Linked DNA regions of Homo sapiens: region 2 is linked to region 1. Evidence: fine-mapped expression QTL. Tissue or cell type: whole blood. Region 1 holds a variant in brackets; the other region holds the start of a gene. All regions are shown on one strand. Distances are from middle to middle.

Region 1 (5,381 bases):
CCAAGCACAAACTCCCAGGGTCTTCATTAGAACCCTTGCAACTTAGTTTGTGTTCCCATTCTTTTCTGACTCCAGCAGATGTAAATACAAAGCCTTTTGCCTGGCGCCTTGCAAATGCTTGCATTAGAGGTCACTGAGCAATGTCTGTCCTGCATTAGACCCTTGAGAGAAAGGTAGCAAACATCTGGCTCCCTGAGTTTGCTGCAGGCAACAGCTCACTTCAAAGCCAATGAGAAAGGACACTGAGGATAGTAACTCATGACTATTCTGGAATCAGAATCAATCAATTGAATAAAACCAATTAACTCAGGATCCTCAACCACTCTGAGAAAAGTGTTGAGTCCAAATATAAGTGGGTTGTGACAAATGGACACAACCCTCTGCAAGAAGGCACAGTGTGAAGCTCCTGTACTTCATTTGGTATAAGAGCGTTCTGTAAAACACATGTAGCCCTCATATGATCCTGCTCTCCCCTTTCTCATCTAATTCTCAATTATCTGTCCTTCTTCCTGACAGATTCTCAATCACCCATGCAATGCTGATGCTTCCTCTTCCTGCTTCACTGCCAACTCTCTTCTTCTCTTTCTCCTTCTTCTTTTTTTGAGATGGAGTCTCACTCTGTTGCCCAGACTGGAGTGCAGCAGCACAATCTCGGCTCACCGCAACCTCTGCCTCCCAGGTTCAAGTGATTCTCCTGTCTCAGCCTCCCGAGTAGGTGGGACTACAGGCACACACCACCACGCCCAGCTAATTTTTTTTTTTTGGTATTTTTAGTAGAGATGGGGTTTCACCATGTTGGTCAGGCTGGTCTCAAACTTCTGACCTCAAATGAGCCACCTGCCTCAGCCTCCTAAAGTGCTGGGATTATAGGAGTGAACCACTGCATCTGCCCCCAACTCTCTTCTTGATCCCTGAAATCTGATTTCTGTCCTTGCCACATTATTGGCACCTTTATTTGAAAAATCAGCAGGGACAATTCAATGGCCAACCAATGGCCTTTTTTGCAATAATTTCCCTTGAAGTCTCCTGAGCAAATGACAGTATTCACCAGGTTCTCCTGGAAAGGATTTCTTCCCCAGAATCCTATGATGTTGCCCTGTCTTAATTAGCTTCCTGTACTTTCTCTTATCTTCTATGCTGTTCCTCATGAAATGCCAAAGCATAGTAGGACAATTCATCTGTGACAATAAGGATCTGAATTCTGATTGCTCTGACACATGCTCCTTTGCAGAGTAATCAGACTTTATTATGCAAAGAGAAAATAACTTCCACTTACTGTATGAGACTGTTTTAAAAGTTGAAATAATACTTCAAACAGAAAAACATTGTACAGCATACAATTTTTGGTATTATTTAACACATTGTATGTTTATATCATCATTAAATACTACATAAGCAAAGGTCTAAAAGCCAAGGGCAGAGCAAATCAACAAGCAAGCATTTGCATGTAGCTGGAAGGTATGTGAAAGAATATTCGTTTCTGACTTCATTCATCAGCTAGAATTTTCATTTCTGAGAGTAACTGTATCTAGTGGCTGTCATTAATACAATCTCCAACAGGTAAGGGTCACAAACTCCCTCAAGTAAGAGTTATTTTGGAGTGTTGCTTTTTCACTTTTAAAAATGGGCTAATTTGATCATCACCCACCCAGGCCCACGCTCATCACGGTTGGATGAGTAGTTCTTTGTTGTTGGCTATTGTTTCTTTGGAGAATCTGAAATAAAATGCTGTGGACTTTTATTGTAAAAAGATGTCTGTACAACGAAGAAAACCACTTGAAGGTAAAATGGTGAGCTCACATGCCTTTCATTCATAGATGCTCTCCACAGATGCCAGATAAGGAACTCATCACTGGTTCCATGATTATGTTCTAGCACGCTGCTTTGTTATTTAGGTGCTACCAATCATAATCAGCCACTATAACTTAGCTTGTGAAAGTAAGCTTCAAAGTATTTAACATTAGTCCATCGACTATGAAAATGCACTCTACACATCCATGAATAGCCATTGCAGCAAAAGCCTTCCTCAAAGCCACTTCCAGTGAGCTCCTAGCTGCTAACCTCCAGTTCTTCCTGGTCTGCATCTTCCGTGATGTCCCTGCATCAGCTGCTGTGATGGGCCATCCCTGCCCTAGAGAGCACTATCTCTAGACTTCTCCCACTTTCCAAACTACCCTTTTTCTAGCCATTCTTTTGTAGATCCCACCTCCTGATACTAAACTCTTTATGACGTTCTTTACTTATGTGCTCTAGTCTCTATCAGTGTTTGTTGAGTGACCACATAATAAACTGAACCCGTTATTTTTCTTGAGATATTTCACCTTCCCTGAAAACTCAGTATGCATAACGGATTTACAGCCTTCTCTTGTCTTCTGCCCCCAAGTATAGTTTCCTCTGCTTGAAGAGCTCATAGCCCATAGAAAATAATCTAGACCCCTCAGCACGGCTCCTACTACCCACTGCAATGGGCTCAGTCCACCTTTCTACCCTCATTCCCAGCACTCTGCTCTTTTCACCTTCAACTTCTCCTTTGTCTGTGAGACCCCTGCTGCCTGGCATACCCTGGCCCAATTTGTTCATCTGGATAAAAGGCTTATTTTAAATGTCACTGCTCCTTGGTTGCTTCTTGTAGCACACACTTGTGTACCTTCCTAGCATCATTAACTCCTCCTTTATCTGAGTTCCTAGAGCACTTGATACAACCTCTATTATAGCGTTTACATTGCCACTTTATTTGTGTAGATAACTGTCTTCCTTCTGGGATTGAGAATTCCTGGAGGACAGGGCTCTGTCTTATTCATTTTTGTGACTTCAGCACCTTGCACAGATCCTAGTATGTGTCAGGCACTCATTGTTTGTTTAATTGAATGGAAATCGCTCCAAATCATGCTTAAAACTACAGTTATCCTTTGTTTCTCCTTTTCTCAACCAATGTTTAT[C/ATC]CTTTTTATATAATTTTGCTTATAATCGTCCTTTCTTATAGTCTCACTGCCTCCATTTTAGTTTAGGCCCCTTTAGCTTAGAATCTTTATCAATGCCATGTTCCCCAAATGCCTTAGGTCTCTTCATTACTGCCTTCATGACCATTGTCTCCTTAAGGCTAACATCAAGTTGACAACTTGATACTGGTATGCATACAGCCCCATCCCACTGGCATTAAGATCTTCCACAATCTGATCCCTTTCTACCTCTGCCGCCTGATCTCTTTTTTAACTTCTGCCAGACTGTAGGAAATGTTTGTTTACAATGGAAAACTAAAGCATACCTCTCAAGGGGTTATCTGATTCTGAGTCTATGGGGGCTCTATACCTGTCAATGCCTTTGAGCTATTTTAAAATTGTATAAATGGTAGATACCTGATAGCAATGCAAAATAATTCTTGTCTATAGACATGAAAAACTGTCCAGTGAAGGTTCAGTGGACTTCCCTCCCCCACATGAAAGAAGCCAGTTTTGCCTCTGATTGCATTCATTTCAATGATGATTTATAAATGTGTCTGTTTTTTGGAATTTAACTGGTTGTAACATCCTGCACTAATAACAAGTTAAATAAAATGTTTAATACAGGTTCATTTTATATCTCTATGTGAGTCATATTTTTGCCTGTTTTTGAAGATTATCCTTTAACAATACATGCCTTCTGCATCAACTAAATTGATCAATTTCTAGGTTCCTCAAAGATAACTGATAGTGTCATTTTTCTGTTCAGGACCTTTGCATAAAATGTTCCTTTCTTCTGAAATTTCCTATCTTCCTCATCATCAACACTCAGCAAATCCTATCGATTCTACTGCTTTAGGCACCTGATAAATCTTGTTCTCATCTAGAAGGCATTTTCTAGCTAGGCAACTGGTCCTGAGGCATGTGTCTTCTGTCCCTGAAGTCTCAGCATATTTACTGTCCACACCATTCATGTGGCACTTCTTACACATGCAGGCCTATGTCAAGGCTGGTTGTGCACTGCCTGACCCTCTTCCAGATCTGGAGCTCCTGGAATGTGAAACACATGCCTGGGGACCACATTCTTACATCTCTTTGTCTCATATAAAACTTTGTGTGTATGTATATACATATACACATGCACAGTAAGTGTTTGCTAAATTACTTTATTACCAGAACGATTTTTAGTTCCTTTTACTCGCTAAGCCCTGACAGTTACTATAGTAATTTAAAATAAATAGTGATAGTATATACATCTTCAAATGCTGTTGGAATTCTCTTCTGCCTTTATTGATTCTTGTTACTGGTATGACTTTATCACTAGCATGGACCAGAAGGGATAGCCCATACTGCTCTGAACCTCTGCTGCCTGCTCCATGAAGGCCTCCCTGGCTCCTCAGGGCAGGGCGAAGTTTGCTCTCCTGAGGCTCACACCCGCTTTAGCTTACTTACTAGTCTGCGGTTATCATTTATCTGATTGTAGTTCTATTTTTCTCTCCAACGAGACTCCAGTGGTGGGGCCTCTAGGGCAGGCACTATGCTTCCTTCCTGTTTGTTTCCATGAGTTGGCATAATGCTTGGCACATGGTTGCCAGGAGGTAGGTGCTGTATAACAATGGAAAAAAACTCATATTCCTGAAGTTTGTGAAAAGTGAAATTCTGGAAATGAGGGCACAAATTCCTAGTTCTCCAATGTGTAAAGCATTCACTAGTATATTTCTCCTACTAACACTGAGCTTTAAAAATCCTGTTTAGACATCTTGTCATTTATAAAATCTTTTTTCCAGGTTTCTTCTTTATTTTTATTTTTTATTTTTGAGACAGAGTCCCACTCTGGAGTGCAGTGGTGCAATCTCAGCTCACTGCAACCTCTGCCTCCCAGGTTCAAGCGATTCTCCTGCCTCAGCCTCCCAAGTAGCTGGGATTACAGGCACGTGCCACCACGTCTGGCTAATTTTTGTATTTTTAGTAGAGATGGGGTTTTGCCATGTTGGCCAGGCTGGTCTCCAACTCTTGAGCTCGGGTGATCCACCCGCCTCGGCCTCCCAAAGTGTTGGGATTATAGGCGTGAGCCATTACGCCAGGCCCTTCCAGGTTTATTCTTACAGAGTTGGAGTGTAATTAGGTTAAATTTAGAAATACTAAACCAATAAAATTATGAGTGTAAAAATATAAAATATAAAAGAAAACATGAAGTTTTAGCTTCTAAATATATATGTATATTTAAGTTCAAACTGGAAAACTGGCAAATTTGAGGAGAAACCCACAGTGGGAAAGAAAGAGGTACAGAACTGTAAATAGTTCTACTTTGGGCATTTTGGCTAAATATCTAGTGGATACATCTAGCTGTTACCCAATAACAGGTTTTCTTCTTTTTCTTTTCTTCTTCCTTAGGTATAAAATACCCCATTTTTAGACGGACACATAGTCACCCAAAGTAAAATT
Region 2 (5,381 bases), 77 kb after region 1:
CATCCGATTTGAAGTGGATTTAGAAGGGAGGAGGGCATTAGAATACATGAATATTATTTTAATGCTTATTGGGCATTTACAATGTGCTAGGTATTGTGCTAAGTGCTTTACATCTTAATACCTCATTTACTCCTATGAGGTACCCATTATTTTTGCGTACATTTTACAGATGAGGAAACTGAGAGTGATTACTTAACTGTCCGAAGCCATGCAAGTGCAGGAGCAAGAGATCTGAAGCCCATTTGGCCCTGCCATTTTTACATTCTAGGTAAGCGAGGCCTTATTAGGAGACTGATGGGTGTACAGGCATGAATTTGGGAGCATGTTAGTTAAATACAGAGGAGAGTGAGTAGATTAAGCTTGGTTGGCTGGAGCAGAAAAACATGAGAGAGGATGAACGAGGAGCTCAAAGAGGGTCCTGAGTGGCTACCACTGACACTCAGAGGCAAAAGGGAGCTGGGGAGCAGCCTTTGACTGTGAGGACACCACTGGAGCATTCCAGGTTAAACTGAGAAGGGCATGTGGAGGCTGTGGCCATGATTAACAAGGGGCCGCAGCCGTGAGAACCACTAGACAGCTGGGGAAAGGCTGGATAAGAGCAGGGAAGAGCAACAGGACAGACATCCAAGGGGACAGGAAAGCCTCCATATTCAGGTCTACATAGGACATTTTATTTCCAGACATCAAGGCCATTTTAATTCCCACCTCCATTCAAATCAAAGGGCAGCATGACAGAGTAGACGTGCCGATAAAGAGGAGAACACCAAAATGAACATCGAATGAAAGCTAGTACATCTCACTAGCCAGCGACTGATCTATTTATTGGCCTGTGAATTCTTTGGAGGGGACTAATATATATATAATTACATTTTCCCCACAATGTGCCATTTAAAAAAATATGGAAAGCTTTACCTGGAAACGCTTATGGAATTACCTTTCTTCTAACACCTTGCAAAACAGCCAGTCATAGTTATAGAGTTTGTTTTATTGCTTTTTAATTACTGCACTTTTGTAAATAAGCACCACCATATAATTAAGAGGCTGAGTCTCCATTCAGGTATGTGGGCAGACATCCTCACCTCTCAAACTTGTGAGGCCAGGCATGCGCGTGCAGGTGCATGCAGGTGCAATTAGCCGCTTGCCTCATGGTGCATCCTCTCAGCCAAGGTTACACTGAGTATGTTGAGCCTTAGGGCTTCTGTTTCTACTTTGCCTTCTACACAGACAAATTCCTTTCTCTCTTTGCTGCTCAAAATATGTAAAACTTAGCAATGAGAACTATGCTAGATTGTAAGCAGGTTAGTGTTGTAACAAGCTTAAAGAAGATAAACAAAGTATATTTCCTCTTCCTCTTTCAAGAAAGGACTGAAAAACATTCTCCCCCTCAAAAGAATGCTGGAAAGCCACCAACTTCACTACTCTGAAATAAAAAAATTAATATAGTGGGCAGGGACTGTGTCTTATTCACCTTGTGTAGCCCCACAGCCTGGCACATAGTAGGTATTCAATAAATATTTGCTGAATGAATTGGAAGAATTCAAAATTGTATCACAGATATTCTCAAAGTAGAAATGAACAGTCATTTTGAATCATTTCCTGAAGTATGTATGTGGGGAGAGGAGTTTAGGAAGGGTGGAGAGAATATATACTTTATCTAGAGTGATTTGAAAATAGACAAGGGGAGAGAAATTTTTAAAAGAAATCCCATTGGCCTCAGTATTGTCACAACATAATTTTCTATTTAATGATGCAATGACAAAAATTGATGGAAGAAAACAGTCTGGTCTTGGAATAATCAAATATGTTTAAAAACCACGTACTGATGTCAACTCAAAAGTGAGTTTTTTCAGTTATTGGAAAACTGCTCCATAAAGAACACTGTATGTCAAATTCTTTTCATTAATCAAAGAGCAGATAGACAAAGGAAGATTCATCCTTGAGTGTAAAGTATTATAAAAATAATGAGTCCAAGTTAAATGATTTATAGCTATGACAAGTAAAGAATGCTGTTTGGGCAACAGTATTACTCCCAAATGGCTTCCCACTTGTAGAAAAACAGCTTCAGACAAGCCCCATAGTGTATACAGTGGTGCAAAATGACCTGGAAAAAATGGTTTCTATGGATATCATTTAGAGATGCACATCCCTGAATACCTTAAGGCTGAAGGTACTTTAGCTCTTTTCCTCAAAGCAATTGCAGCACAGGTTCTCCTGCCCAGGTTTTGTTTATATAAGAACAATCTTGGCCACAGGTCATTTGTGTAGGAGACAATTAATCACTAGCTCTTTGAGCACAGGTAGGTTAATCAGTATGCACATAATACAATATTAAAATTTTCACGGGGAAAAAATTTTTTTATTTAAAACAATAAAGCATCAGTAATACCTGCTGATCTTTTATCCAAAGCAAGTACAAAGGCTGTTAGTGAAATAGAGAAGACTTTCTTTTTAAACAGTTCGGAAAATACAAGGCATCATTGATCACCTGAAGGCCTCATTTTAATTTGATTCCAGATCCACGGCAGCTTAGAGGTTGTCTTTTTGAAATAGCGTATTGCTAAAATCCTTATGTAGGTCAGAAATGGAACTTCAGGAGCCATCATATTCTGCTATCCTAATAAATAATTAGGGTCAGAACCTCACTTGTTTATGTTTCAAAAAAGCACAATATTTGGACTATAGCAAACATCAGGATTTTTAAAAATTCAAATATTAAATGGCATTCAGAACATCATCCACATGGAAGAGGGAGAGATGAAATAAATCTGCAGATGCCTCTATATACAAAAAGGATGTCCTAGGTTTTGGACTATTAAATACTTTTCTTTCTTCAGACAATACCCTAAAAAAACAATTACAAAGTACTCTGAAACCCTGCCACACCCCTTTGATTAAATCACACTTCACAAAATATTTAGAGAAAGCCTGAACAAATCAAATAAACATCAAGGCAGGAAATGCAGCCAGGAATGCCTGATCCTGAGCTCCCCCAGAGTCTGAAGGGCTGCCTCACTTGAAAATTTAATCAAACACAATCTACTGTAATTCCATTGCAGCCTTTGCACTTAAGGAAAGCTAGTTCAGTCTCTGACATTTTGATTTTCACAGCAGATGGGAGCAAAAAAAGAAAGAAAGAAAGAAAGAAAAAGAAAGAAAGAAAGAAAGAAAGAGAAAAGAAAAGAAAAGAAAAAAAGAAAAACTTCCGCGGCTCACAAACATATGTGTCCAGTTGAGATTTTCTGTCTCCAGCCTTATGCAACATCCAGCAAACAAACAAACAAAAAGGTTATTTTCTATTACTCACTATTACTCCAGGATTTCAGTAAATATTTGATACTGATCTCAAAGAAGCCCGAATCCTGCTGGCTGGCCATGTCTGCGGCATACAAAGAGGCTGGGAGGACGGGCAGCGGCCGGGAGCAGGTACCGGGCGTGATGCGCCTGTCACAGGTTGTGATGTCAGCGCGGGGTCAGGCGCCCAGAGGCAGCTCTGCGGATCCACCTCCGGCTCCGGCCGGGAGTGCTCATCTAAAGGACACGGCGGAGCAGAGAGAGATGCTCGGCCGCTCCTCCTCCTCCGGGTCCAGGACTTGCTTCTTATTTGCTGGACGCTGATCTCCCTGCAGCCCTCGGAGGCGGCGGCCGCGCTGCTTTCATTTCGGGGCTGTCATCACCAGAAACGCCGGCTGCCGGCCGCCCACCAGCTCGGCTCCAGCCAGGTACGCAACCGAGGAAGACCCCACCTGAACTGGGATCGGCTTTCTTCTGGGAGGGAGGGTTTCTAGGCCGGCCTCCCTGACGCGGTGCAGGCAGCCTCCGGCCCACACGGCCGCCGCGGGGCTAAGGGATGGGCCGGGAGCGCCGCCCCCTGCCCCTGCCCACTGTCTCAACCTGAGCCGCGGCTCAGTCTCCGCCTAGGCTGCGGGAGGAATTTCCCAGCTTCTGCGGATCCTCTCTCTTCAGCAAGGCTTCCCGTGAGCGGCCCGGGTGTGCTCTGGCTGCTGCTTCCCCTTGTGTCTGTCCCTGAAATAAACACAACTGCAGCACGCTGCGGTAAGCAAAGCTGCAGCCTTGCATCTGGTTGCAGCGACGTTTTGAAAAACCCCATCCGTCAGCCTCGTTGCAGTAAAGAGACTCAACAAGAGGACGCTTGTCTGGGCTTTTTCTTCCCTGCCTTCCACACGCATGGTGGTATCTGCATTTTTACTTTTCCCTCCCAGAAATGCAGTCTTTTCAAGGGGCATCGGAGCCCGAACGTGTGCACTCTAAGGGGACAGTACACACTGCTTAGTTGGCTTGTTTTTGTAATGTCACACACTCCACAATGGATCTTATTCTCAAACCTCTCATTTCTAAGACTCACTAAGCCCAGTGAAGCTTATTTTATTTGTATGAAAAGGATAAGAAGCAAAAGCATTAGATTCCTTGCTCTACAATGGCTCTTGATTTCATGAATTCTTGATATCAGGTGTCCTGATTTTGGTTAGCTTTGTTTCACATTATCATTTAGCTTGACCAGGGGATTAAATAAGAGTATTATATTTTAATAATGACAGGTTATGTTGGAAGAGGTGGGATTTGGCCAACTATCTCATAAACCACAGGATCCTTCCCAAGTCCCAGTACATTCATGATTAATGTTGTCTAAAAAACAGAAAAAAGTAATAAACCATGTTAATAAGTATTTAACATAGCAAATGTTGGGCTAACTCCCCAAATCAACACACAAACAGGACTTCCTAGATTAACAGTTCATTTTAAAAATGGAAGGGAAAGACTACAATGTACTTTTATTGTTAGGACAAAGAATTTTTAAAATTCAACACTAAATAAAACTTCTAGAACTATGTTCTGAAAGGCCCTAAGATACTTCATCAATACAATTAGTTTTTCAAACTCATTACACTTACCCAAATGGCAAGCACTCAATCACTCAGATTTCCAACTCCACTTATACACTTTATTCTGATGAAATCTCTCACCAGATTGACTTCTTTTTAATTCATGTGCATACTAGAGTTGCTGAACTGATTTTATCACTTGTACTTTGAATGTATGGATTCTAGGTAAAATAAGACCCAAAGGTTTTACCTTGAAACAATTATTATATCTGAAAATAAATTTCATACCTACGCCCATCTGATGCTTGCCAAGACTCAGATGGCAGTGAATGAACAGGTAGGCTGCACAGTGCCCTGCGATTAACGATGGCATGGGCTCTCAAGGCAGGGCCCCATGTTCGCTCCTGGCACCAGCCCTTACTAGCTTTGAGCCCCAAAGTAAGCTATTAACTTTGCTAAGCCTTCGTTTCCTCATCTGTAAAATGGGGTTGTACCTTCTTCCTATAGTTGTTGGAAACAATAAATAACACTATGTATGAA

Which allele goes with the higher level. Alleles are on the strand shown, and positions count from the first base shown. SD is a standard deviation of normalised expression in the study named.
For the expression in whole blood of the gene that starts at base 3,396 in region 2, allele ATC in region 1 goes with a higher level than allele C (small effect, 0.37 SD a copy in GTEx).

Evidence for each region. PIP is the estimated chance that this variant, and not a neighbour inherited with it, causes the effect. A credible set is the group of variants that fine-mapping cannot tell apart.
Region 2: FRY starts here. The variant in region 1 is the best candidate, but not a certain one, in a credible set for the expression of FRY in whole blood (GTEx, PIP 0.81).

Annotation. Positions count from the first base shown.
Region 1 is chr13:32,106,717-32,112,097 of GRCh38, reverse strand. All of the region lies in intron 3 of FRY (FRY microtubule binding protein), which reads right to left. Among named protein-coding and RNA genes, the nearest start is that of FRY, 78 kb to the right of the region's middle. The variant C/ATC (reference allele first, on the strand shown) is at 2,940.
Region 2 is chr13:32,029,789-32,035,169 of GRCh38, reverse strand. It overlaps FRY (FRY microtubule binding protein), which reads right to left and starts at 3,396. Exons shown (of 61, transcript NM_023037.3): 1 at 3,305-3,396. The coding sequence starts at 3,374. It overlaps FRY-AS1 (FRY antisense RNA 1), which reads left to right and starts at 3,531. Exons shown (of 4, transcript NR_103839.1): 1 at 3,531-3,719.